7 linked regions of the Homo sapiens genome follow. The protein of the gene in region 1 purifies or fractionates together with the protein of each later gene. This does not show direct contact. Each region holds a gene or a part of one and is shown in the gene's direction. Other genes may lie near its edges.

Evidence for each region.
Region 2: the proteins of DERL2 (region 1) and AARSD1 purify together in Homo sapiens (affinity purification with mass spectrometry, with the first as the bait; one large-scale study listed by BioGRID). This does not show direct contact.
Region 3: the proteins of DERL2 (region 1) and CYRIB purify together in Homo sapiens (affinity purification with mass spectrometry; one large-scale study listed by BioGRID and IntAct). This does not show direct contact.
Region 4: the proteins of DERL2 (region 1) and SRP54 purify together in Homo sapiens (affinity purification with western blotting; one study listed by BioGRID). This does not show direct contact.
Region 5: the proteins of DERL2 (region 1) and NCAPG purify together in Homo sapiens (affinity purification with mass spectrometry; one large-scale study listed by BioGRID and IntAct). This does not show direct contact.
Region 6: the proteins of DERL2 (region 1) and HERPUD1 purify together in Homo sapiens (affinity purification with western blotting, with the first as the bait; one study listed by BioGRID). This does not show direct contact.
Region 7: the proteins of DERL2 (region 1) and POR purify together in Homo sapiens (affinity purification with mass spectrometry; one large-scale study listed by BioGRID and IntAct). This does not show direct contact.

Annotation. Positions count from the first base shown.
Region 1 is NC_000017.11:5,476,179-5,479,678, reverse strand, and holds part of DERL2 (derlin-2), read left to right. Parts: intron 1-1,679; coding exon of another isoform or gene 1,680-1,722; exon of another isoform or gene 1,723-1,830; intron 1,831-3,500.
Region 2 is NC_000017.11:42,950,026-42,952,240, reverse strand, and holds the end of AARSD1 (alanyl-tRNA editing protein Aarsd1), read left to right. Parts: intron 1-346; coding exon 347-441; intron 442-1,512; coding exon 1,513-1,648; 3' UTR 1,649-1,715; downstream 1,716-2,215. Other genes in the region: PTGES3L-AARSD1 protein, read left to right, coding at 347-441, 1,513-1,648. UniProt on the Homo sapiens protein: Functions in trans to edit the amino acid moiety from incorrectly charged tRNA(Ala).
Region 3 is NC_000008.11:129,839,093-129,842,326, reverse strand, and holds the end of CYRIB (CYFIP-related Rac1 interactor B), read left to right. Parts: intron 1-121; coding exon 122-185; 3' UTR 186-2,734; downstream 2,735-3,234. UniProt on the Homo sapiens protein: Negatively regulates RAC1 signaling and RAC1-driven cytoskeletal remodeling. Regulates chemotaxis, cell migration and epithelial polarization by controlling the polarity, plasticity, duration and extent of protrusions.
Region 4 is NC_000014.9:35,017,492-35,020,991, forward strand, and holds part of SRP54 (signal recognition particle subunit SRP54), read left to right. Parts: intron 1-1,200; coding exon 1,201-1,274; intron 1,275-1,474; coding exon 1,475-1,583; intron 1,584-3,500. UniProt on the Homo sapiens protein: Component of the signal recognition particle (SRP) complex, a ribonucleoprotein complex that mediates the cotranslational targeting of secretory and membrane proteins to the endoplasmic reticulum (ER).
Region 5 is NC_000004.12:17,820,979-17,824,478, forward strand, and holds part of NCAPG (condensin complex subunit 3), read left to right. Parts: intron 1-2,004; coding exon 2,005-2,145; intron 2,146-2,668; coding exon 2,669-2,792; intron 2,793-3,500. UniProt on the Homo sapiens protein: Regulatory subunit of the condensin complex, a complex required for conversion of interphase chromatin into mitotic-like condense chromosomes.
Region 6 is NC_000016.10:56,930,723-56,934,941, forward strand, and holds the start of HERPUD1 (homocysteine-responsive endoplasmic reticulum-resident ubiquitin-like domain member 1 protein), read left to right. Parts: upstream 1-1,419; 5' UTR 1,420-1,522; coding exon 1,523-1,669; exon of another isoform or gene 1,670-2,572; coding exon of another isoform or gene 2,573-2,593; intron 2,594-4,219. UniProt on the Homo sapiens protein: Component of the endoplasmic reticulum quality control (ERQC) system also called ER-associated degradation (ERAD) involved in ubiquitin-dependent degradation of misfolded endoplasmic reticulum proteins.
Region 7 is NC_000007.14:75,921,655-75,925,154, forward strand, and holds part of POR (NADPH--cytochrome P450 reductase), read left to right. Parts: intron 1-447; exon of another isoform or gene 448-546; intron 547-3,500. UniProt on the Homo sapiens protein: This enzyme is required for electron transfer from NADP to cytochrome P450 in microsomes. It can also provide electron transfer to heme oxygenase and cytochrome B5.

The DNA of each region.
Region 1 (3,500 bases):
GCCAAGCAGGTGGTTGAGATAAGCAGTGAAGCAGAGTGGAAATAGCTTTGGACTGGAAACCAGGTGTAGCTGTCCCACTGACCAGCCATAGAGCAAGTCCTTTCTTTTTTGCACTTCAGTTTCCTGAGATAGAACTTTGATTTCTTTCTTTCTTTTTTTTTTTTTTTTTTTTTTTTTTTTTTACATGGAGTCTCACTCTGTTACCTAGGCTGGAGTGCAGTAGAACTTTGATTTATGAGACCTCTTTCTACTCTGGAATTTGGTATCCTTGGGAGATGCCATATTAAAAAGGGCTCAATTGAGAAGTAAAATGTGAGTTTTTGTTATAAAATGTTTGTTGTAGAATAGTAAGCAAAAAAGAAGAAAGTGAAATTGTCCACTATCCCGACACTTGGGTATAGCAGTGGCCACCATTGTTAACTTTTCAATGTGTATTCTTCAGTCTTTGTGTACTTTTTAAAAAACGCTGAGCCAGGCAAGGCTGCATACACTATGATTGCGCCTGTGAACAGCCACTGCTCTTCTTGGGCTAGGCCTTTAACATAGCCACTGCATTCCAGCCTGGACAACATAACACATTCCTGTAATCCCAGCACTTTGAGAGGTGAAGGCAGACGGATCACTTGAACTCAGGAGTTTGACACCAGCCTGGGCAACATGGCAAAACCCCATCTCTACAAAAAATCCCAAAATCAGCTGCATATGGTGGCATGTACTTGTAATCCCAGCTACTCGAGAGGTTGAGGTGGAAGGATTGCTTGAGCCCAGAGGGTTGAGACTGCAGTGAGCCGAGATCGCACCACTGCACTTCGGGCTGGGGGACAGAGTGGCACCCTGTCTCAAAAAACAATTTTTGTAACCTTGTAAACTTAGTATGCCATAATTGTTTTTTCCACCCTGAAGTGTTATAAAATTATAACAGGTGATATTCCATGGTATGGATATGGTGTAATTATACTAATCCCTTGTTGATGGACATTGACGTTAGTGCTTGGTTTTCTCTTCTGTAATTGGAGTGGTGAATGTCCTTGTAGCTAAATCTCTGCACACATCCATGATTATTTTCAAAAGATAATTCCTAGAAGTAGAATTCCTATTTTGTTGCCAAACGCCTTCCAGAATGGATGTTCAGGTTTACATTTCAACTAGCATTTATAACTGTTCATTTCCCCACATCCTAATCAAACAAGGAAGGCATTTTATTTACCCTTTCCTAGTTGAATAGTTGTAGGATGATGTCTCATTGTTTATGATTTTTAAAAAATGTTTTGAAACAATTTCAGTCCTACAAGAAATTACATATGCAGTACAGGTCTCACTCCATTGCCCAGGCTGGAGTGCAGTGGTATGATCATAGCACACTGTTAACTCAAGCCCCTGGGCTCAAGTGATCCTCCCACCTCAGCCTCCTGAGTAGCTGGGACTACAGGTGCACACCACCAAGCTCTGCTTATTTTCTTTCTTAAATGTTTTTTTTTGTGGAGACAAGGTCTCTCTATGTTGCCCAGGCTAGTCTCGAACTCCAGTCCTCAGGTGATCCTCTTGTCTCTTGGCCTCCCAAAGCACTGAGATTACAGGTGTGAGCCACTACACCCCACTTTTTATTTTTTTATTTTTTTGCAATTGTTTTCTGGCACAACAAGATATACCAGGCTCATCCTGTGCTCTCCTTGATCCAGTCCTAGAATCAGCTGTTTCTTCAAGGAGCCCTGGTTCCTTTAAAGTGGAGAATGGTATTTAGAAGCCAAGATCTGGGTGCTAGATGTGCTCATTGCTATTGGAGTGTTGCTATTCCCAGATCCTCTCAGTGAACAGAGCAATGGAATTATATGTATGTATGTATGATAATGTATACATGTGTATATTTTTAGATCTATGTATTTTTTAAAACATGGGTTTATACTATACTCCCATTTCTAGTACTACCTCATGGTTCATTCTAGCTTTTTTCCTATTGGTTTCCTCCAATATTTTATTATGAAAATTAACAAACTTATAGGAAATCAGAAAAAAATTGGAGTGAGCTTCATGTAGCCACCACATAGATTCTGTAATTAATAGTTCCCTATTCTTATTGCACACCTATCCCTACATCTAGCTTTCCAATCCAAAATGTATGTGCCATTATATGTATACTTAATTCCTTGTATACTTGAGTGTGCATATCAGTAACTAGAGTTTAGTATTTATGTGCAACAAAATACACAAATCTTGAGTGTGTCAACTGAGTTTTTATAAATGCACACATCTGTGTATCTATCAAGACAGAAAATTACCATCAACCAGAAAGTTCCCTGATGTCCTTCCCTGTCAATCATTGTACCTGTCCCCCAAGAAGCAATTGCTATTCTGGTTTTGTTCCTCTGTAGATTAGTTTTTCATGTTCTACAACTTCATGAGTAGAATTGTACAGTATGCATGTACTCTTTGGTATAAGGCTTCTTTCATTCAACATAATGTTTTTGAGACTCATCTGTGTTCTTGTATTTATTGGTAATTTGTTCCTTTTTATTGCTGAATATTATTTGGTTGTATGAATGTACCACTCCTTTCCATCTGCCCTTTCCATCTGTCCTAACCTGATTCTTATTATGATTAATGTTTTACCTACCTAATTACCCCTCATATGTAACCAGTCTTTCGGGATAGTCTCCACCTCTCCCATATGGATGCCTTGCTTATCTCACTCACCCTCAGATTCCCCAGACCAGGCTGCCCTCTTACAGGGATGCCTCCCCATCCTACTCGGGCTAACATCTCGTCAGGCCACCTCCATGTGTGCATGGTCTGATGGGGCTCTTGACTCCCTATACCAGGCTGTGCCCCCACCCCCATCCTGCTAATGTTTGGGCAGTAGAAGGGATCTCAGTTTTGTTTTTGTTGTCGTTGCTGTTTTTTGAAACGGATTCTTGCTCTGTCACCCAGGCTTGAGTGCAGTGGCTCAATCTCGGCTCACTGCAACCTCCGCCTCCTGGGTTCAAGCGATTCTCCTGCGTCAGCCTCCCTAGTAGCTGGGATCATAGGCATGCGCCACCACACCCGGCTAATTTTGTATTTTTAGTAGAGATAGGGTTTTGCCATGTTGGTCAGGCTGGTCTTGAACTCCTGACCTCAGGTGATCCACCCTCCTCGGCCTCCCAAAGTGCTGGGATTACAGGCATGAGCCACCACACCTGCCGGGATCTCAGTTTCTAATATACTTTCCTTTGATTATTGTGAGAGCAAACATTCTCACGTTTATTGACCACATGGATTTCCTTTTTGAATTGCATATTCAGCCCTTTGCCCATTTTTTCTGTTGGTATGTTTGTTTTTATTGTTAATTTGTAAGAATTTTAAAAACTCATTTTGAATTATACTATTTTCTGACTCCAGTATAAATCAGAAGTTTTCAGATACATTTCTAATTTTATCAACTGTGGAGGATTACAAGTAGAAATATAAGTGCAAATTGAGGATGCTGCTTTAATGGTTCCTTCTTTAGTGAGGTTTTGAATTAC
Region 2 (2,215 bases), about 37 Mb from region 1:
CGGCCAGGCAGAGGGAAACCTGGTGGTTTAGGCAGTGGCAGGGAAAGGATGTGTGGTGGGGAAAAGTTTGCAAGAGTGAAACCATGAAAGGCATTTTCTGCTTAGCCAGGATCAGCAGTCTTCTGCTGCCTTCTTAATGTTTCACCTAAGTTCCCATAGTTGCTCTCAAAAAGTTTCTTGGCCCTCGTGGGCCAGTGTGGAGGGGCTGTATCATCATTCATCAGGAGCGTCACTTGGTGGTTTAGGGGGAAATAATCTATTCTTAAGATTGAAGAGAGTGCAGGATTTGGGGGGTTGACTCTACATCCTTCAGTATCAGAGCTTATCTCCTTGTCTTACCTCCTAGGAGACCCTCCTGTTCTTAACTGTGGGCGATGAGAAAGGTGGTGGACTCTTCTTACTGGCAGGGCCACCTGCGTCTGTGGAGACCCTGGGGCCCAGGTAATTCTTTGTGGACTCTCTTGCACATGTAGTAGAGCCTGTATCCTACAAATACATTCCTTTACTGAGTCAAAGGACCATCACATCTGCGATCTCATTTAATTCACATCATGGGCATGTGAGGTGGGCTGAGCAGAGATAATTATTACTACTGTCATTTCCAGTTTGACAGTTGAAGGTCTTTTGGCTCCACATCTCACATGTATGTTTTTGTTTTTGTTTTTATGAAATGTGTTTGTTTTTGTTTTTTGAGATGGAGTCTTAGTCTGTTGCCCAGCCTGGAGAGCCCAGGCTACTCAGCTCACTGCAGCCACCACCTCCCAGGTTTAAGCAATTTTCCTGCCTCAGCCACTCAAGTAGCTGGGATTACAGGTGCACATAACCATACCCGTCCAATTTTTTGTATTTTTAGTACAGATAGGGTTTCACCATGTTGGCCAGGCTGGTCTCGAACTCCTGACCTCAAGTGATCCACCTGCCTTGCCCTCCCAAAGTGCTGGGATTACAGGTGCTCACCCTGCTCTCTGGAGATTAACATAATTTATCTAGCCCAATTCATAGACACTGATGTTGTTTCCAGTTATTCACTCTTATGTGATGATGGTACATATATCTTTGTGCATATGTGCAAGTGTTTTTTTGAGACAAAGTTTCACTCTTGTTGCCCAGGCTGGAGTGCAATGGCACCATCTCGGCTCACTGCAACCTCTGCCTCCCGGGTTCAAGCAATTCTCCTGTCTCAGCTTCCTGAGTAGCTGGGATTATGGCGCATACCACCATGCCCGGCTGATTTTTTTATTTTTAGTAGAGACGGGGTTTCATCCTATTGGTCAGGCTGGTCTTGAAGTCCTGACCTCAGGTGATCCACCCACTTTGGCCTCCCAAAGTGCTGGGATTACAGGTGTGAGCCACCATGCCCAGCCTATGTGCAAGTGTTTTCAAGAAAGATTCCTAGAAGTCATCTACTCTTCTTATCCCTCTCCCAGTCCCTGGAAAAAGACTCAGAGCTGCCCTTGTTTTTTTTTGTGACTTTTCCCTCAAAGTCTCCCTGACTATACCTCTGTTCCCCAGGGTGGCTGAGGTCCTGGAAGGCAAAGGAGCAGGGAAGAAAGGCCGTTTTCAGGGCAAGGCCACCAAGATGAGCCGGCGGATGGAGGCGCAGGCGCTTCTCCAGGACTACATCAGCACGCAGAGTGCTAAGGAGTGAGGGCTTAGGGCACTCACCTCCTGTTTCCACAGGAATCTTTTGGTCAATAAAATAGATTGACTCAGAATGGTTGCGCTACCACTTGTATTTATATGACTAATTCGTACTGTATACTCCATTGTGCTTGTGTGGTTACTTTCCGTTTATAAATAGATAATTTTCTAATTTAGTTCATGCACTGTAATGTTTAGAAGGTGGTGGATTAATTTATACCAAACCTTGTGCTTTTGCACTCAGTTGGATAAGAAATGAACATCTGATCAGCTGAGTCCACTGCTCCCATAATTTTGTTATAATCCACAAAGGCACATGGCTTTTTCCCGCCCCTACCGCCCCACCCCCTGAGATGGACTCTTGCTTTGTTGCCCAGGCTGGATATAGTGGTGTGATCTCAGCTCACTGCAACCTCTGCCTCCCGGGTTGAAGGGATTTTCCTGCCTCAGCCTCCAGAGTAGCCAGGATTACAGGTGTGTGCCACCATGCCTGGCTGATTTTTTTGTTTTTGTTTTTTGTTTTTGTTTGAGATGGAGTCTCGCTCTGTCACCAGGCTGGAGTGCGGTGGTGCGA
Region 3 (3,234 bases), on another chromosome or scaffold:
GAGAAGCCATAATTTTGTGAGTTTTGCTGAGACCAATTCTCCATCCTGTCATAATTAGAGAACCCGATGCTGATTATTTTTTAAGTTCCTAAAATTGATCTTTTTTCTTTTCTTTTTTTAGGTACACAACAAAACATTTGAATGATGAGACTACCTCCAAGCAAATTAAATCCATGCTGCAATAACAATTCTGGAATAAGCACCTGCTGTAGACAGAAGACAGTATTCTGCAATGACTGAGAATGCAGTTTTTTAGTGATTGCAATTACTATCTCATTTATTCTTGCTTTTATTTCTTTCCTCTGTTCCTCTTCCCTCTTTTTTAATCATGTTCTTAAGACTTCTTTTCTGTGCCAAAATCAGTAAAGTTACACTCTGAAGGGATATCATCCTTTCAAACGGGCCATCTAAGGCAGCTAATTATGCATTGCATTGGGGTCTCTACTGAGAAAAATTCTGTGACTTGAACTAAATATTTTTAAATGTGGATTTTTTTTGAAACTAATATTTAATATTGCTTCTCCTGCATGGCAAAACTGCCTATTCTGCTATTTAAAAACCCTCAATGACTTTATTTTCTACTGCCGCCTTTTTCATGTGCAACCAAAATGAAAATGTTTAAATTAACTGTGTTGTACAAATGGTACCCAACACAAACTTTTTTTAAATTAGTAATACTTTTGTTTAAAGTTTTAAGTTTGCATTTTGACTTTTTTTGTAAGGATGTATGTTGTGTGTTTAACCTTTATTAACTAACGTTAAAAGCTGTGATGTGTGCGTAGAATATTACGTATGCATGTTCATGTCTAAAGAATGGCTGTTGATGATAAAATAAAAATCAGCTTTCATTTTTCTAAGTGTGGCTTGGTTTACTGATGTTTTGTTTTTAGGCTTCTGAAGTTTTCCCCATGTATGTTTTTATGGAATGCATATATACATTACATGATTTTTTCTTCTTTTAGGGGAGAGCCGGGTCTTTTCATTAGAATTTTGATCATTGTCTATGTATATACTTTTAATTGCCTTTAAAATTTTGCTAAGTATATTAAGACCAGTGATCTTTTCATTAACTGGACTTTTATTCTTGATTTACTCTTGTATGGATGTAGTAATGGAAGGAAAACCGCATCCTTGCTTGATTCTCCATTTCCAGGGGAGCGGGTAGCAACATGAAGGCAGAGTAGCCCTTTAATCATGGGAAGAGAGTGATTATAAGAGGGACTTCCCAGGAGAAAAGCAGAGGCCATGATCTCACTAGTGGTAGAAAACTAACAGGTTTCAGTTTAAGATCATAAAACCTAAATCATGAAATCTAAATCTCATGGTTGGAACAAACTACTTAAAGGTTGTCTAGTTCAACCATGCCAGTGTTTTAAATATTTAGGAATATCCGAGGTATAATACAATTAAAATGTTTAACCATGGAAGAGAATCACAGAGGCTTCCATCAGACCCTTCTGGATTAATAGGGCCAGATCATGGCACACACAGCTTCTCAAGATCACATCCCTGCTGATCTCTCTGGCCCTCCTGATCACTGCTCCCCCACTTCACACCCTGTCCTGCAGCCAGGCCCTACTGCTTGCTGTTCACAAATTGTTCCATGTGATGTCACTTCCTTAGCTCTGGTCTGGCTGGTCCCTGAACCTGACATTCCCTTCCTCCCCTTGTGACCCTCTAATGAACGCCAACTTTCATCTTTGAAGGGTTAGCTTCTATTACCTCCTTCATGAAGCCTTCTGGATAACATTGGCCATATCCTTCTAGGCATCTTCTAAGAATAGTGTAATAGGCTGAATAGTGGCCCCCAGGAGATACATTCACTGGGAATCTCCACGTGTGACATTATTTGGAAAAAGTTTTTGCAGATGAAATCAAGGACCTGGAAATGAGATCAACCTGTAGTAGGGTGGGCCCTAAATTCAATGACTAGCTCTTAGAAAAGAAGGGGAAATAGACACACAGAGCTGAAGGCCATGGGAAGATGGAGGCAGAGATTAGAGCAATGCATCTATGAGCCAAAGAACCCTAAGAATTGGAGGAAGTCACTAGAAGCTAGGAAAACAGGCATGTCACAGATTCTCCCTCAGAGTCTCGAGAAGGAACCAACCCTACCAATATCTTGATTTCAGACATCTGGCCTCCAGGATTGTGAGGGAATAAATTTCTGTTGTTTTAAGCCATGCAGTTTGTGGTATTTTGGTACAGCAGCCTTAAGAATCTGATACATGTATCTCGTAAAACACCTCTGATACTTACCTGCGCTTGTGGCTGTGTTTTCTGATACTATGAGAGCCGTAGTATCTGGATACCGGAGAGTCTGCGAACTTGAGAGAAGGGCCGTGTCTGATTTTCCTTCAGTGTCCCAAGGAAGGATCTTGCACAGTACCCAGATTTGGAGAGGTGCCAAGTGAATGCTTCGGTGGACTGAATGAATACAAATCAAAAATAATGATGCAGCGGGAATGGATGCAGTAAGATTGCTGTGGCCTATGCAGTTCACACAGTTCACACTCTGCATGTTGAGGAGTAAGTGGACAGATCTCTTAAGCCCAGGGGCTAGCAAACCGGTCTGTGGGCCAATTTACTCACCGTCTGTTTTTGTACAGCTTGTGAGCTAAAAATGGTTTTTAAAAAGGTTGAATACAATCAAAAGAATAATATTTTGTGGCATGAGAAAAGCATATGAAATTCAAATTTTAGTGTTCATAAATAAAATTTTATTGGAACCTAAGCCTCACTCATTTGTTGACACATTATTTATCGAGACTTTTGCATGACAGCAGCAGAATTGAGTTGTGACAAAGACCATATGGCCCTCAAAAGCTAAAATATATTTACTATCTGGCCCTTTCCAGAAAGAATTTTCCTCTCCTTCCACTAGATCCAAGAGTAGGTTTATCTGAGAACCTAGTGTGATTGAAGCTGAGGGCTGCAGTGTGATCAAAGGAGACAGCTCTGCTGCCAAAAGATGATTCAACCTCAGAGCTAGTACTTGCCAGTCAGATAGCCAAAGAGAGCAAGCAGGCATCTTCTCTGCCAACTCTATCTGTAGTTCTCATGTCTGTCCTTGGAGTGAAGTATTATGGGGGGTAGGCATGGACTTAGCCAGTGTATTAGTCCATTTGCACACTACTAATAAATACCCCAATACTGGGCAATTTATGAAAGAGAGGTTTAATTGACTTACAGTTCCATGTGGCTGGGGAGGCCTCACAATCATGGGAGAAGGTG
Region 4 (3,500 bases), on another chromosome or scaffold:
TAATCCTCTCTTCCACTGTTTAATTCTGCGTTTCTAGTTGACTGCTATAACATTTCTTTTAAGATACTGTACTGCCACTTCACATTCAGAATGCCTGAACCAAATACCTTTTCTCTTTTTATCTTTAGGACATAAATAGAAAATACTTTCTCTTTTGGCTTGTTCCATCCCTGTTTTTAAACCTTAGGTTAGTATACATACAATGAAATGCTCAAATCCTAAGGATACCTTTCTTTTTTTGACAAATGCACAGTAACCCACACCCAATCAAGAAACAGAACATTTCCATTACTCTAAAAGGTTTGCTTGTGCCCTTTCCCGGTAATACTTCATATTATAGAAGTCCTGGGCTGTGCATGGTGGCTCACACTGTAATCCTAGTGCTTTAGGAGGCCAAGGTGGGAGGATCATTTGAGGTCAGGAGTTTGAGACCAGCCTGGGCAATGTAGTGAGACCCATATCTCTTAGAAAAATCCAGTGGCATGCATCCATAGTCATAACTACTCTGGAGACTGAGGCAGGCGGTCACTTGAGCTCAAGAGTTTGAGGCTACCAGTGTGTGATGACTGTACCACTTCAATCCAGTCTCAGTGATAGAGCACAACCCTCTTAAAAAAATAAAGAAATTCTGAGTATATCGTTTTTCTTCCAATCTGTTTTCTTTGACTAAGCATATTTTGATATTAATTCATGTAGTTGTACTTATCTATAGTTTGTTCTTTTTATTGCTGAATAATATTTTTTCCACAGTGTATCCATTTTCCTGTTCATAGATACCTAAGCTATTTAAGAAACTCCAAACAATCTTCTAAAGTGTCTTGCTATTCTATATTCTCACCAATATATGGGAGTTCTTTGTGGTCCACATCCACTTTAACTTTTGATATTGTCAACCTTTAAAATTTTACTCATCCTAGTAGGTGTAGTTTATGTGCCTTGTTTTCAGGTTTCTTGTGTGTTTGTATATGTGTCTTCTCAGATAGAATGTAAGCTTCTCTATGATAGGACCTGTCTTTGTCTATGTATTCTCCCCAGCATTCATCCTGTCATCTTGCACATGGTAACTGCTTGGTGAATATTTATTGATGTATATTTTATAAATATGCTTCAAGATGAATTCATGATTAAGGAATAAATTAGTTTTGTTGAATGGAAATGTACATACTTTAATATATCCGAATTATTTACATTGTATTTCAGGTCAGTTTACGTTGCGAGACATGTATGAGCAATTTCAAAATATCATGAAAATGGGCCCCTTCAGTCAGATCTTGGTTAGTTATCCTTAAAACTTTATACCTTCTTTTGTTTTCATTAAATTTTCTAAAATAGATACACTTGCTTTAATTATTTTTACATTCGGGTAAAAATATATCTAAGACTTAGTGTCAATATTAAACCTAATAGTTAAATGTGGACATTTTGAACCATTAATCTTAAGCTACTATTGACTTTATGTTTAAATCTGTTGTAGGGGATGATCCCTGGTTTTGGGACAGATTTTATGAGCAAAGGAAATGAACAGGAGTCAATGGCAAGGCTAAAGAAATTAATGACAATAATGGATAGTATGAATGATCAAGGTAAGATGGCAGATTATTTTCCTCAGGCAAAAATGTTCTGAGTATCAGTAAGATGAGAGTTTCACTGTATTCTTGTGGACAAGATGGGGAGAAATTTAGCCTGAAAGATTATTTTTAGGTAGATTTGTAATAGCTTGAAAGCTCTTACTCAAAGGGTTATGATTATTGGATTGCCTTCATCGTTGAGAGAAATGTCTAGTATAATACTTCTCCAAATGAGTTACAAGGAAAGAACACTAGTTCTTCATGATGTTCATAGAGTTAACTTAAAAGGAGAACTCTGAGTCAAATGTGGTGGAATGCTAGTTTTTAAAGAGTTAAATTTGGCTGGGTGAGGTGGCTCACACCTGTAATCCTAGCACTTTGGCAGGCCAAGGTGGGAAGATTACTTGAGGCCAGGAGTTTAAGACCAACCTGGCCAAACGTAGCAAGACCCTGCCTCTATGAAAAAAAATTATTTACTGAAAGTCTCTTCACGGAGCTTTAATATTGCTAACATACATTGGGAAACTAAGAAATGGATAGCTTAAGCAATGCTTAGAAAATTCTTTCTGTCTGAAACATAAGAATTCAGTTTTCTCAGTATACTGCTCTGTTCCCCTGACCCTATAAAGGCATGCCTCAGAGATACTGTGGGTTTGGTTCTAGACCACTGCAGTAAAGGAAATATCATGCAATAAAGTCAGTCATACAGATTGTTTTGGTTTTCCAGTGTATATAAAAGTTATGTTTACAAATACATATACTGTAGTCTATTAAGTGTGCAAGAGCATTATATCTAAAAAACAATGTATATACCTTAATTTAAAAATAGTTGATTGTTGGCCGGGCGCAGTGGCTCACGACGCCTGTAATCCCAGCACTTTGGGAGGCTGAGGCGGGCGGATCACCTGAGGTCAGGAGTTTGACACCAGCCTGGCTAACATGGTAAAACCCCGTTTCTACTAAAAATACAAAAAAATTAGCCGGGCGTGGTGGCACACACCTGTAATCCCAGCTACTTGGGAGGCTGAGGCAGGAGAATCGCTTGAACCCGGGAGGCGGAGGTTGCAGTGAGCCGAGATTGTGTCATTGCACTCCAGCCTGGGCGACAGAGTGAGACTCTGTCTCAAAAGAAAAAAATAAAAAAATATAGTTTATTGCTAAAAATGCTAATGATCATCTAAGCCTTCAGTGCATTATAATCTTTTTGCTGGTGGAGGGCCTTAGCTTGATGTTGATGACTGCTAACTGATTACAGTGATGGTTGCCAAAGGTCAAGGTGGCTGTGACAATTTCTTAAAACACAAGAATGAAATTTGCCCCATTGATTGACTCTTCTTTTCACAAAAGATTTCTCTGTAGTATTCGATGCTGTTCGATAGCATTTTACCCACAGTAGAACGTCTTCCAAAATTGGAGTCAGTTCTGTCAAACCCTGCTGCTGCTGCTTTATCAACTAAGTTTATGTAATATTCTAACAATTTGAACAATTTTTCATATCTGTGCTTTATCTACTATCTGATTTATTGTTATTTTTTTGTAGTCTCTTTTTCCTGAGCTCCAGGTTTTCATAGTAGCCCAAATAAGACTGTCTTTTTCTTTTAAGGTTGTTTTTTTTCCTCACTGTCTTTAACACTGCAAAAATGTTTGCATGTAGAATTCATAATTGCAGCATATCTAAAGTATCCATTCTGTGCCAGGCACTGTCCTGAGCACTTTAAATATATTAATTCATTTTATCATCATAACAACTCCTATGGCATATTCAGTTATTATCTGCCTTTTTCAAATTAGGAAACTGGGATACAGGGAAGTTGAGTAATTTGCCCAGTATAGAACCTTTCCTGACTTCCTTCCTTCTTTGAATTAACGCCCCTTCCTCTATTTGCTTAACTCTGTCGTATTACTTGCCACGATGTGCTGCTATTAGTTTAT
Region 5 (3,500 bases), on another chromosome or scaffold:
TGAGTGGTCTCTTCATTATAATAAATGTCTTTATAAATGGTTAGGATTTCATGGTAACTAAAATTGGTGGGTCAGTTTTAAGTTGTATTTATGCAGTTGAGGATTTTTAATCTATTAATTAAACAACTGTTTGAATTTACTTAAAAAAAAAAACTCAGTCAAGATGCTGTGCATTTTGCTAAAGCTGGGCTGGAGAAGTGGGGAGAGATACAAAGATGAGTATAAATGAAGGTTTTCTTTTAGCCTGTCAGAAAAGAGTAACTCTACTGATTGGTTGATTTTGATAGTTATCGGTAGTGTAGTTTTCCTTAGTTTCCTACTAGAACCCAAAGGGTGGCTGATGTCTTAAAAGTCCTAATCTTGTGGCCAGAAATTTATGAGCTTTTATTTACTCTTGGTCATCACTTTGTAATACATGAGAGTATACTCATTATACATTATACCACAATTTCTGTAACTTGGTTTTTGTCACCCCCGCCTTTTTTTTTTTTTTTTTTTTTTAAGAGACGTAGTCTTGCTTTGTTGCCCAGGCTGGAGTGCAGTAGCGTGATCTTGGCTTACTGCAGCCTCTGCCTCCCAGGTTCAAGCAATTCTCCTGCCTCAGCCTCCTGAGTAGCTGGGATTATAGGTGCCTGCCACCACATTTGGCTGGTTTTTATATTTTTAGTAGAGATGGGGTTTTACCATGTTGGTTAGGCTCTTCTTGAACTCCTGATGTCAAGTGATCCTCCCGCCTCAACCCCCCGAAGTGGTTGGGATTACAGGTGTGAGCCACTGTGCCCGGCGACATTTTTGACATTTTTTAAATGACATTTTTGATCAGGATTGTTTTTCATGTTACTTCCATCTTAAAGGCACTTCGCTGTCTAAGCTTCAATTCTTAGTTCTGCTTTTAAGTAGCTTTTTTTATTCCACACAAAAAGCAGAGGCTACTGAATATACAGCCTTCTTGGTGAGGATTATAAAGGGCTTTAGTTTGGGTGGTGATGTCTGTAGTAAGAATAAAAAGTTAAAATAAAAGGTAGCTGATGGTGGTGGTGTATACAGAGATTAGTAGGGTTTCTAAGAAAGAATAATAAAAATTTGTGAAATTGTTTCTATTTTTCTGATTTTTTTCAAAAAAGATAATTGTATTCATGGATTACTTGTGTAACTATTGTTACAATTTTTAAAAATAAAAGAATGATAATTAGGCATGATGAAGATTAAATCTTTTTTTTTTTTTTTTTTTTTGAGATGGAGTTTTTCTCTGTCACCCAGGCTAGAGTGCAGTGGTGCGATCTCGGCTCACTGCAACCCCTGCCTCCTGGATTCAAGCAATTCTTCTGCCTCAGCCTCCTGAGTAGCTGGGATTACAGTAGCCACCATGCCTGGCTAATTTTTTTGTACTTTTAGTAGAGACAGGTTTTCACCATCTTGGCCAGGCTGGTCTCGAACTCCTGACCTTGTGGTGCACCTGCCTCGGCCTCCCAAAGTGTTGGGATTACAGGTGTGAGCCACTGTGCCCGGCTGAAGATTAGATCTTTATGACTAATTGGATTTTTGGGTAAGGGATTCAGAACTTGATAGATGCTTCTTGACTTAAAGTGGGGCTATGTCATAAGTCAAATGAGTTTAATTCTCAGATAAACTCATCCTAAAGTTGAAAAATTGTAAGTTGGGCCACCTGTAATTGGGGACCATCTGTAATTGGGAGAATGCTAGTGACATTGAAATAATTAGTTATCAGTTAGACATAAATATGTACCTTTTGAAAATTTCCCATAGAAAATTTGAGTCATTATTGAAAATACATTTTCAAATTCTTTTGATTCATCAATAAGTTTGTTTGCAAAAGTTAATGACAGTGGCATAGAATTGAGTTTGTAGACCAAATTACATGGCATAGATATGTATTTAGACGAATATGACCTGAAAATGGCCCTTTTCTGACCTAATGGTGGGAATCAACTCTTGTTTGATGTTTCTTAAAAGATTCTACTTTATTAATTCTGCTTGTTTTAGTTACATCCAGAGCATTCCAGTTGTTAATGAAGAACACAGAGGTGATTTTTCCTATATTGGAAATTTGATGACAAAAGAATTCATAGGTCAACAATTGATTCTAATTATTAAGTCTTTGGATACCAGTGAAGAAGGAGGAAGGTATGTCTAAATGTTAACACTCATTCTAATTTGCCCTTCTAATTTCTTATATTGAAATATAGTCCTTTTACAATATAACTAAACATATTTACCCTAGCTCTCTAAAGTGGTATAAAAAGTTTTCTTTTCCCTTCTACATATTTCCATATATACACATACATTTATATTTCTAGTTCAATTTCCTCAGAATAAATCAATGAAATTGCAGTTTTTGGTTAAAAGTTTCTGTTTAGATTTATTAAGGCTAGTAGCATTTTCTAAAAGGTTTAATCATTTCTGGTATTTTGTCATTTTATCATGTTGATTTATTAAAAATCATAGGGTGTTTTATAAAAATTTTTTTTTGTGTGGAATAAGAATATTTGACCTAAAGTCTGTACATACAGATTTTTGTACCTATTATAGTGATAAACCTAAGTGAAAGAACTGAGGCAAATGTAATTAAGTTTGCAGAGTAGGTGAATGTTAGAGATAAAACATGTTTTGTCATAATAATATTTAAATTAGTTCTTTTTGACTGCAGAAAAAAACTGCTGGCTGTTTTACAGGAGATTCTTATTTTACCCACAATCCCAATATCCCTGGTTTCTTTTCTTGTTGAAAGACTACTCCACATCATTATAGATGATAATAAGAGAACACAAATTGTAAGTAATTTTCCTCATTGTTGATAAAGAGGTTTTGGTCAATGACATTGAATACTGTCTTATTTTCTGTTTAGAACTTTTTGTTTTGTCTGTTTTGTTTTAGGTTCGTCTCTTTAATGAGTTTTAAAATTTCTTAAAACCATTATCTATCTCTTACATACACAGAATATTTGAAAAATGTCACCTTCTTCCTCTTAGTGTACCTGTTATTGTTGAATCAGTTTGAAATGGAGCAGGTTTGGTAGGAAGTTACAAGTGGGGATATGGTTTTGTCCATGAGGCACTGGGTGCTAGTGTTTTTGAGAGCTTACTCAAATTGTACATACTAGGGTTTAGAATCTCATCTGACACTTTCTGGCTTTGTGGCTTTGGACAAGTTATTCTGCTGTTTTACTTGTCTGCAAATAAGAATAGCAATGAAATCTACCTTTCATTTTTCAATGAGGTATTGTTCATAAAGGTATTGTTCTGTATTGCTTGATAAATACAGAAATAATTGTTTACTATAATACTATTTCAGTGTTATTTTTTTCTGGCATAGCCAAAAAAGACAGATCTGTATCATTTATTTCATAAAAATCACATAATTTCAGTTGCAGGTTAATTCACAGATCATCTCTTCCATCCTCTCCTTATATATACACCCCTTCTACAACATGCTTAGTTGTTATTCAGCATCTGCTTAAATACTTTCATTTGGGAGGCAGC
Region 6 (4,219 bases), on another chromosome or scaffold:
TAATGTTAATCCGTATTTGCAGCCACTCTCAGCACTAGCATCAGCAACTCAGCTCCACCTCCCATCATCAGGCATTCGATTCTCGTAAGGAGCACAGCCTAGTTCCCTTGCGTGCACAGTTCACAATAGGGTTCGGCTCCTGTGAGGATCTAATGCCCCCTGATCTAACAGGAGGCTGAGCTCAGGTGGTAATGCAGCGATAGGGAGCAGCTGTAAATACAGATGAAGCTTCGCTGGTGGCTCACCTCCTGCGGTGCCGCCTGGTTCCTAATAGGCCAGGGACTCATAGTGGTCCGTGGCCCAGGGGGGTTGGGGACCCCGTCTTAAGCCATCCAGTTTGTGGCACTTTGTTATGGCAGCTGCAGCAGATGAATATACCCACCAACCAGACCAGGCTCCTCCTGTTACCTTCCTGACCTTGACAAGCTCCTGACAACACCTGAAAAAACAGATGTCCCAAGGGGGTTGGAACAAGGAGGGAGCCGGGGCAATGTCAGTTTTGTTTTTCAAGCCTTTTTTTTTTTTTTTTTTTTTCCTACAGAGGAGGAGGAGGGAACGCCTACAATAAAGAGGCCTTTATGGTCCCACTTCAGGAATCGGAGAACCCCGCCCTCCTCGTCTCAGCCCCAATTTAACGGGTGCATGTGTGAGTATCTTATAAAGTGACGCGTTTTGAGGGGGACTCCAGTGTGAGCAGGACTGTGGCTGACTTGTCAATCATCATTAGGGTGATGTCCCAAACGTTCAAGTCTGAGGCCCAGGGAAATTGGCAACAGCTGCCTGGATGCCTCCATCCTCCCAGCCCAAGGAAAATCTGGCCTTGCTCCTTCGTTGTCTTTCTTAGGAGCACGTGGAGTTCTCCTAGGTGGGCTTGCACTCGGGGTCGCCCAGCCGTTCTTTGAGGGTTCGAGTGGGTAGGCTTCCCCTGTAGGACGGGCTTCCCCGTAGGTTTCCACGTGGGGCCACAGAGGCAGGAAAAGGGGAAGTGGGCACTGACACCTGGGGTGAAAAAGGGTGGGGGTGCGGCTTTGTGAGGAAAGAATTTGCAGAGACTGCTAAACTGGGGTCTGCTAGGATACCCCACTCCCCACCCCCTGCCTCGGGCGCCCTCAGCCACCCGAGCTGGGGGCCTCGCAGGTCTCAGACCAAGCTCCCCGCGCGGCCTGCAGCGCACCCAAACATGGCCACCGAACCCGGGTTCCCGGGGCACAGCCGCGCCTCTGGGTGACGCAGACGCGGCGGGTTGCATCAGCCCGTGCCCACGTGCTCGGTCCGCCCTCTGCCACCCGGATCCGGACGCCGATTGGGCCACGTTGGGAGAGTGCCTCCGCCTCAGCCAATGGGCGGCAGCCACAGAGCGTTCTGTCCGCAGAGCCGGGCGCGGGGCTTCTATAAAAGGCGCCCGAAGCGGGGGCGCGCGCCCCAGAGACGTGAACTGTCGTTGCAGAGATTGCGGGCGGCTGAGACGCCGCCTGCCTGGCACCTAGGAGCGCAGCGGAGCCCCGACACCGCCGCCGCCGCCATGGAGTCCGAGACCGAACCCGAGCCCGTCACGCTCCTGGTGAAGAGCCCCAACCAGCGCCACCGCGACTTGGAGCTGAGTGGCGACCGCGGCTGGAGTGTGGGCCACCTCAAGGCCCACCTGAGCCGCGTCTACCCCGAGCGTCCGGTGAGAGCGGCCCCGACTTCCCGCCCCTAGGCTGTGGCCCCCCGCCCTCTGCTGGGGATGCCACGTCCGGCTGCCCTGTCCTGTGGCCTCCTCCCGCTGACGGCTGCGATCGCTCGGCCGGTCACCTCCCCCAGGGCTGTGGTCTCCCCTTCCCTGCCCCGCCGACGCGGGCGCCCCTCTGTTGCCCAGTAGCCGTCAGTAATCAGCAGCCTGACCTTGGGCGAGTCATTTCACCCTCCAAGCCTGTTTCTCCCCCAGCGGCCAGGCAACTCGGTGTTCCTAATTGGGCTTGCATCCAATGGCTAGAAGTAAGAAAACATCCGTGCTGCAAAATGAGGTTTCTGAACGCAGCCTCTCTGCAGGGAGAGGAGCGGGCAGGTGCCACCCGGGGCCGTGGCTTGAGAAACCTGGGGACCGCCCAGACACTGTGGACGGAAGGCCCCACACCCAGAAGCAGGACGTGGCTCTTCTCCTCCCTGGCCACCTTCCGCCGTGCCCCTCCCTGTCGCACTGGACCGAGCAGCCATTGCCGAGTCCCGGGGTGGAGCCCCGTGCACTTTCTGACCAAGAGCGACTGAGAAGGGAAGCAGGCAGGAGTCGCCTTCAGTCTGGTTTTAGGACGGCAGCCTCTCCATTATTAGCAAGACTTCCTTGCTTTGTTTTGGTTGACACATCTGTCAACATCACCCTTAGCACCGCCTGCCCTGGCCACCACGTGATGAGGCTGTAAGCTGGCCCTTCCTGTATTTACTTTCTGCTCTGATATTATGTAAGTGTCAGCAGTGTTCTTCACTGCCCACGAGCATAATTCTTCATCACACAGGAGAGGGCATCCGGGCAGGAAAAGATAGTGAAGTCGTGAGTTCCAGCTTGTGGTAGCGCCTGTGTCTGTTTTTGTTTCATATGGTCAAGAATGTTTTAGAAGTGAGTTTTCCTTCTGAGTTGTTATTTTGAAATTTGCATATTTATTTAGTAAGCTTGCATTCCATGTCCTCTAGAATTCACCCTGGCACATTTTTCAGTTTCACCATAGCTGCTTCCAAGAAACTGGGTGGCTGTGTTGCCATGAGAATGACTATTGGGTACACAAATTGGTGAAGCAGGTGTAGCCTATGGTTGCATCATATGGCAAAAGGCAGGATTTTGGCGGAGGATTTTTAAGGTCTTCCTTTGATGAGGAATGCCGCTCCCATCTGTTCAGTCTGAAGACCTAACATTGTAAACAAATACCTCTCAGGTATACAAATTTGTGTCTAAAAATTATTATGGCTGAAACATACTTATCATTTGTTTTCTGTAGTAGAAAATGGCATAATATGAGAAGGCCTACTTTGTAATAGTTGTTTGCTTTACTTAATATTTTTCAAATCAGCCATCTGTGTGAAGACTCAATATCAAGTTAGGCCTTTAAAAGGGGGAAAATAATTCAAAACCACTGGCAGCTGTGGTTTTCCGGCCTTTTCTATTGGTTGAACTCTGTAATAAATGCAGGACCCTACATATACAAAAGGTACTGTTTTCCAAATTCACGTATGTATTAGCATTTACCTTTAAAGTTCTCATCCGTCAGAAAAACGGTGAACACAGCATTCAGTATATTTATTTTGGTTTAGTTACACAGTGTCAAAAAGTTCTGATGTATATGGATAAGTAGATGCACTTTTTGCTGTTTTGTTTGTTTAAACAGCTTGCTTTAATTATCTCAAGCTACTTGGCAGGAACACCTTTATTCCAGGTTTCGCATAATCAGTTATTCTGGCAAGAGTAGATTAACACGTTAGTGATCTCCAATAGACAGATTATATGTTAATATTATTTGAGGCCATTATTTTTAAGTACAATTTAGACGGAGTTTCAAATAGATTTTAAAAATGAGATTTGTATAAAAGAGTGTGCAGTCCCTATGGTGTTAAAATCACTGATATGGAGGAGAAGAGGGGTTGGAATTGTGACACTGTGGCAGCAGATGACCTTGGACAAGTCAGTTTTTCAGACTTTCCTCCCTTAAAATAGGGATACTAAATCTCACAGGGTGGTTGTGTATAATGTCACCCACACGCCATCTCCTCTATAACTGCATTTGTATGCCAGGAAATTGTCTGTGAAGGCTTCAGTTTAGAATAGCTTCATATTATTTTGGGGCACTGCTGGGTGATTTTGGTTAAGGCTGGCCTTGGGAGTTCTCTGAGTTTTCTCTGAAACCAAACTCAATTTGGTTGTAGGTTCCCTGTTTGCTGTTTGTTGCTTTTAGTAATAGGAGTCAGTCAGTTTACCTGGGAGTTAAGTTTGGACTGGAGATAATTTGCCATTCTTTTTTTTTTTTTTTTTTTTTTTTTTTGAGATAGGGTCTCACTCTGTCGCCCAGGCTGGAGTGCAGTGACATGATCTTGGCTCACTGCAACCTCTGCCTCCCTGGTTCAAGCGATTCCCCTGCCTCAGCCTCCTGAGTAGTTTGGGTTACAGGCACAAGCCACCACGCCCAGCTAATTTTTGCATTTTTAGTAGAGATGGGGTTTCACCATGTTGGCCAGGCTGGTCTCGAACCCCTGA
Region 7 (3,500 bases), on another chromosome or scaffold:
TCTTCCCCTCCCTACCACGTTCCAAGATCTGTCCATGGTACCATTGCTGGTTGATCTTGGAACCCTGCTTCGGTCACCCCTCCTTTCTCTTCGCCCAGACTGGAGTGCAGTGGCACGATTTGGCTCACTGCAACCTCCACCTGTCAGGTTCAAGTGATTCTCCTGCCTCAGCCTCCCGAGTAGCTGGCACTACAGGCACGTGCCTCCACACCTAGCTAATTTTTGTATTTCTAGTAGAGACAGGGTTTCACCATGTTGGCCAGGCCAGTCTCGAACTCCTGGCCTTAAGTGGTCCACCCAGCTCAGCCTCCCAAAGTGCTGGGATAATAGGCAGGAGCCACTGTGCCCGGTCACTGTCACTGTCTTATTGCATGTTTTCTTCTTCATCTGCTTTCATAAAGGATAAACAGTGACTTAATAAAAGGTGTCTAATTCTCCCCTCCCTAGTGGCAATACGGTTGGACTAGAAGGTGAATTCAGTTGAGAACAGGGAACCTATCATTTCTGCGAGTGTAAGCTGGGGCATAGAACAATGCCAGGCATAAGGTAGGCACTTGGATGAATGGATGAATGAATAAATATGGCTTCTGTCCCCCAAGTTTACTGCTGAGCTTTCTCCTGCATATTGACTGAGCTCAGATGTCAAAATTGGGTCTGATCTGTAGTTTTTTTTTTTTTTTTTTTTGAGACAGAGCCTGTCACTCTGTCGCCCAGGCTGGAGTGCAGTGGCGCAATCTTGGCTCACTGCAACCTCTGCCTCCTGGGTTCAAGCAATTCTCGTGCCTCAACCTCCTGAGTAGCTGGAATTATAGGTGTGTGCCATCATGCCTGGCTAATTTTTTGTAATTTTAGTACAGATGGGGTTTCACCATGTTGCCCAGCTGGTCTCGAATGCCTGACCTGAAGCAGTCTGCCCGCCTCGGCCTTCCGAAGTGCTGGGATTACAGGCGTGAGCCACTGCGCCTGGCCTGGTCTGTACTTCTGAAGATTATTCCAAAGTACAGTAGGAACTTTTGGTAGGACTTTAGTTTTCCATCCAGGTATAAAATTTTGTGTCAGTGGTGGGGTTGCGCATGTTCAGTAGCTGCAACACTAGAAAGATGGCAAAGCAGGAGCAAAGAAAAATCCCTTTGGCTCCAGAAAATCTCCTGAAAGCAGAAGGCTTATCAAGGCCTCAAAGCCACCCAGTCAAAGTAGGCACTTTTGGCAAAGGAGGAGCAGAGGGAAGGAAAAGAGCTCAGGTTTAAACGACTGGAATCATTCCTACATGATTCCTGGCGGCAGAAACATGACAAGGTGTGTCTCAGACGACTAGAAGTAAAACCTCACACCTTGGAATCGCCAGATAAACATTCCTTGGCCTTTGTTGTACGCGTCGAAAGGATTGATGGTGTGAGTTTACTGGTGCGGAGAGCCATTGCAAGACTTAAACCTAAAAATGCAGCGTATAGTATGTAACCTTATGTGACCTGGGGATTTCCAAATCTGAAGTCTGTCCAGAAACTCATTTTGAAACGTAGACAAGCCAAGGTCAAGAATAAGACCATCCCTCTGACAACACAGTGATTGAGGAGCACCTGGGAAAGCTTGGTGTCTTTTGCTTGGAAGACCTCATTCATGAAATTGCCTTCCCAAGGAAGCATTTCCAGGAGATCTCATGGTTCTTGTCCCCTTTCCACCTCTCAGTGGACTGTCATGCTACCAAAAATAGTGGACTTTCTGAAGGAGATTGGCACACCTCCATCTTCTTGGGGGTGTGTGCATCAATCAGCTCATCCGCCAGCTGAACTAGAGCCAGGTGCCAAACTACAGTAAATTTTTATCAATGAACTGGAAGCTTGTGTTATTTTTGGGGGCGGGGTGGAATTTTTATCAAGTATCTTCAGAGAAGATTATTTCCTGCTTTATCTTCAAAAACTGTAAAGGAAGGGTCAAAGGAAAGACAGTGGCTGGCCGGGCCCGGTGGCTCACGCCTATAATCCTAGCACTTTGGGAGGCTGAGGCGGGCAGATCACCTGAGGTCGGGAGTTCGAAACCAGCCTGACCAACATGGAGAAACCCCGTCTCTACTAAAAATACAAAAATTAGCTGAGCGTGGTGGCACACGCCTGTAATCCCAGCTACTGGGGAGGCTGAGGCAGGAGAATCGCTTGAACCCGGGAGGCGGAGGTTGTGGTGAGCCAAGATCAGACCTTTGTCCTCCAGCCTGGGCAACAAGAGCGAAACTCCATCTCAAAAAAAAAAAAAAAGAAAAGAAAAGACAGTAGCTTACGTTCATGGCGGCACCTCTCATCACAGTCCAGTTCCAAGGAAAAATTCCAGCGTTTTCTACGTTGGCTGCTGCCTTGTCTGAAATCACATTTTGTGGAGAAAGGAGTCTTGCTTTGTTGCATCTTCTATCCTAGGGTTTAATGTTGGTGAATGAGTAACTCTAGCATTTGTACAAGGCTCCCTAAGAGTCCTGCAGCAGTCGACCAAGCCCGGGGACATAATTGAATCCGGAGATTCCTGGGGCCTTGAAAAAGGCTTGAAATATACATAGGAAGAAAGGCACAAAAATAAATGCTCACTTGTCTCTGCAAAAAAAAAGAAAAGAAAAATTGTGTCTCAAGTTCCTTCTGTAGTTGATAATTTATTCAGTAATCATTTTATAATTGAAGAAGAATATTCTGACTCTAAATCTTTCTAGATCAGTTACCTGGATGCTGAAGACATGAATAAATTTGTTTATTTTAAAAATCCTAGGGCCTGGCACAGTGGCTCATGCTTATAATCTTAGCACTGTGGGAGGCCGAGGTGGACGGATCACTAGAGCCCAGGAATTCAAGACCATCCTGGGCCACATGGCAAAACACCATCTCTATTTAAAAATTAGTGTTTTTAAACATCAGTGTTTAAAAATTAGCTGGGTGTGGTGGTGTGTACCTGTCATCCCAACTACTTGGGAGGCTGAGGTGGGAGGATCACCTGAGCCCAGGGAGGTTGAGGCTGCAGTGAGCCATGATCAGACCACTGCACACCAACCTGGGTGATAGAGTGAGACCCCCATCTCAAAATATACAGTAATAAATGAAAAATAGAAAATTCCCCAAATAAATAAATAATAGAAAATTCTAATGAAAATAAAAGGAGTTGAGTGTAACCGTTGAGTGTCTGCGCTGGGTGTTTATGTCTCATGTAACCAACGTAGCACTGTGAGCATGGTCATCCCGGAGACGGACTGTGATAAATCGTGTGCCCAGGATCCCAGAGTGCATAGGTGGCATATCTAGGTTTTGAACCAAGGTCTGTTGGTCTTTTATAGCTCAACTGGGTTGTGAGTTTGTTGAATTTCACTTTCCATGCTTTCCCCAACCAAACCAAAAACCAGAGGGGGAACTGAAAGCTGAGAGCCTAGTAATTGAGAAAAGGACTCTGGGAGGTGATGGTGTCAAAAAGCAGTCCAGGGAAGCTCTTGTGGTTGAGCACACAGCTCTGCCCAGAGCTTCCTAGATGCCAAG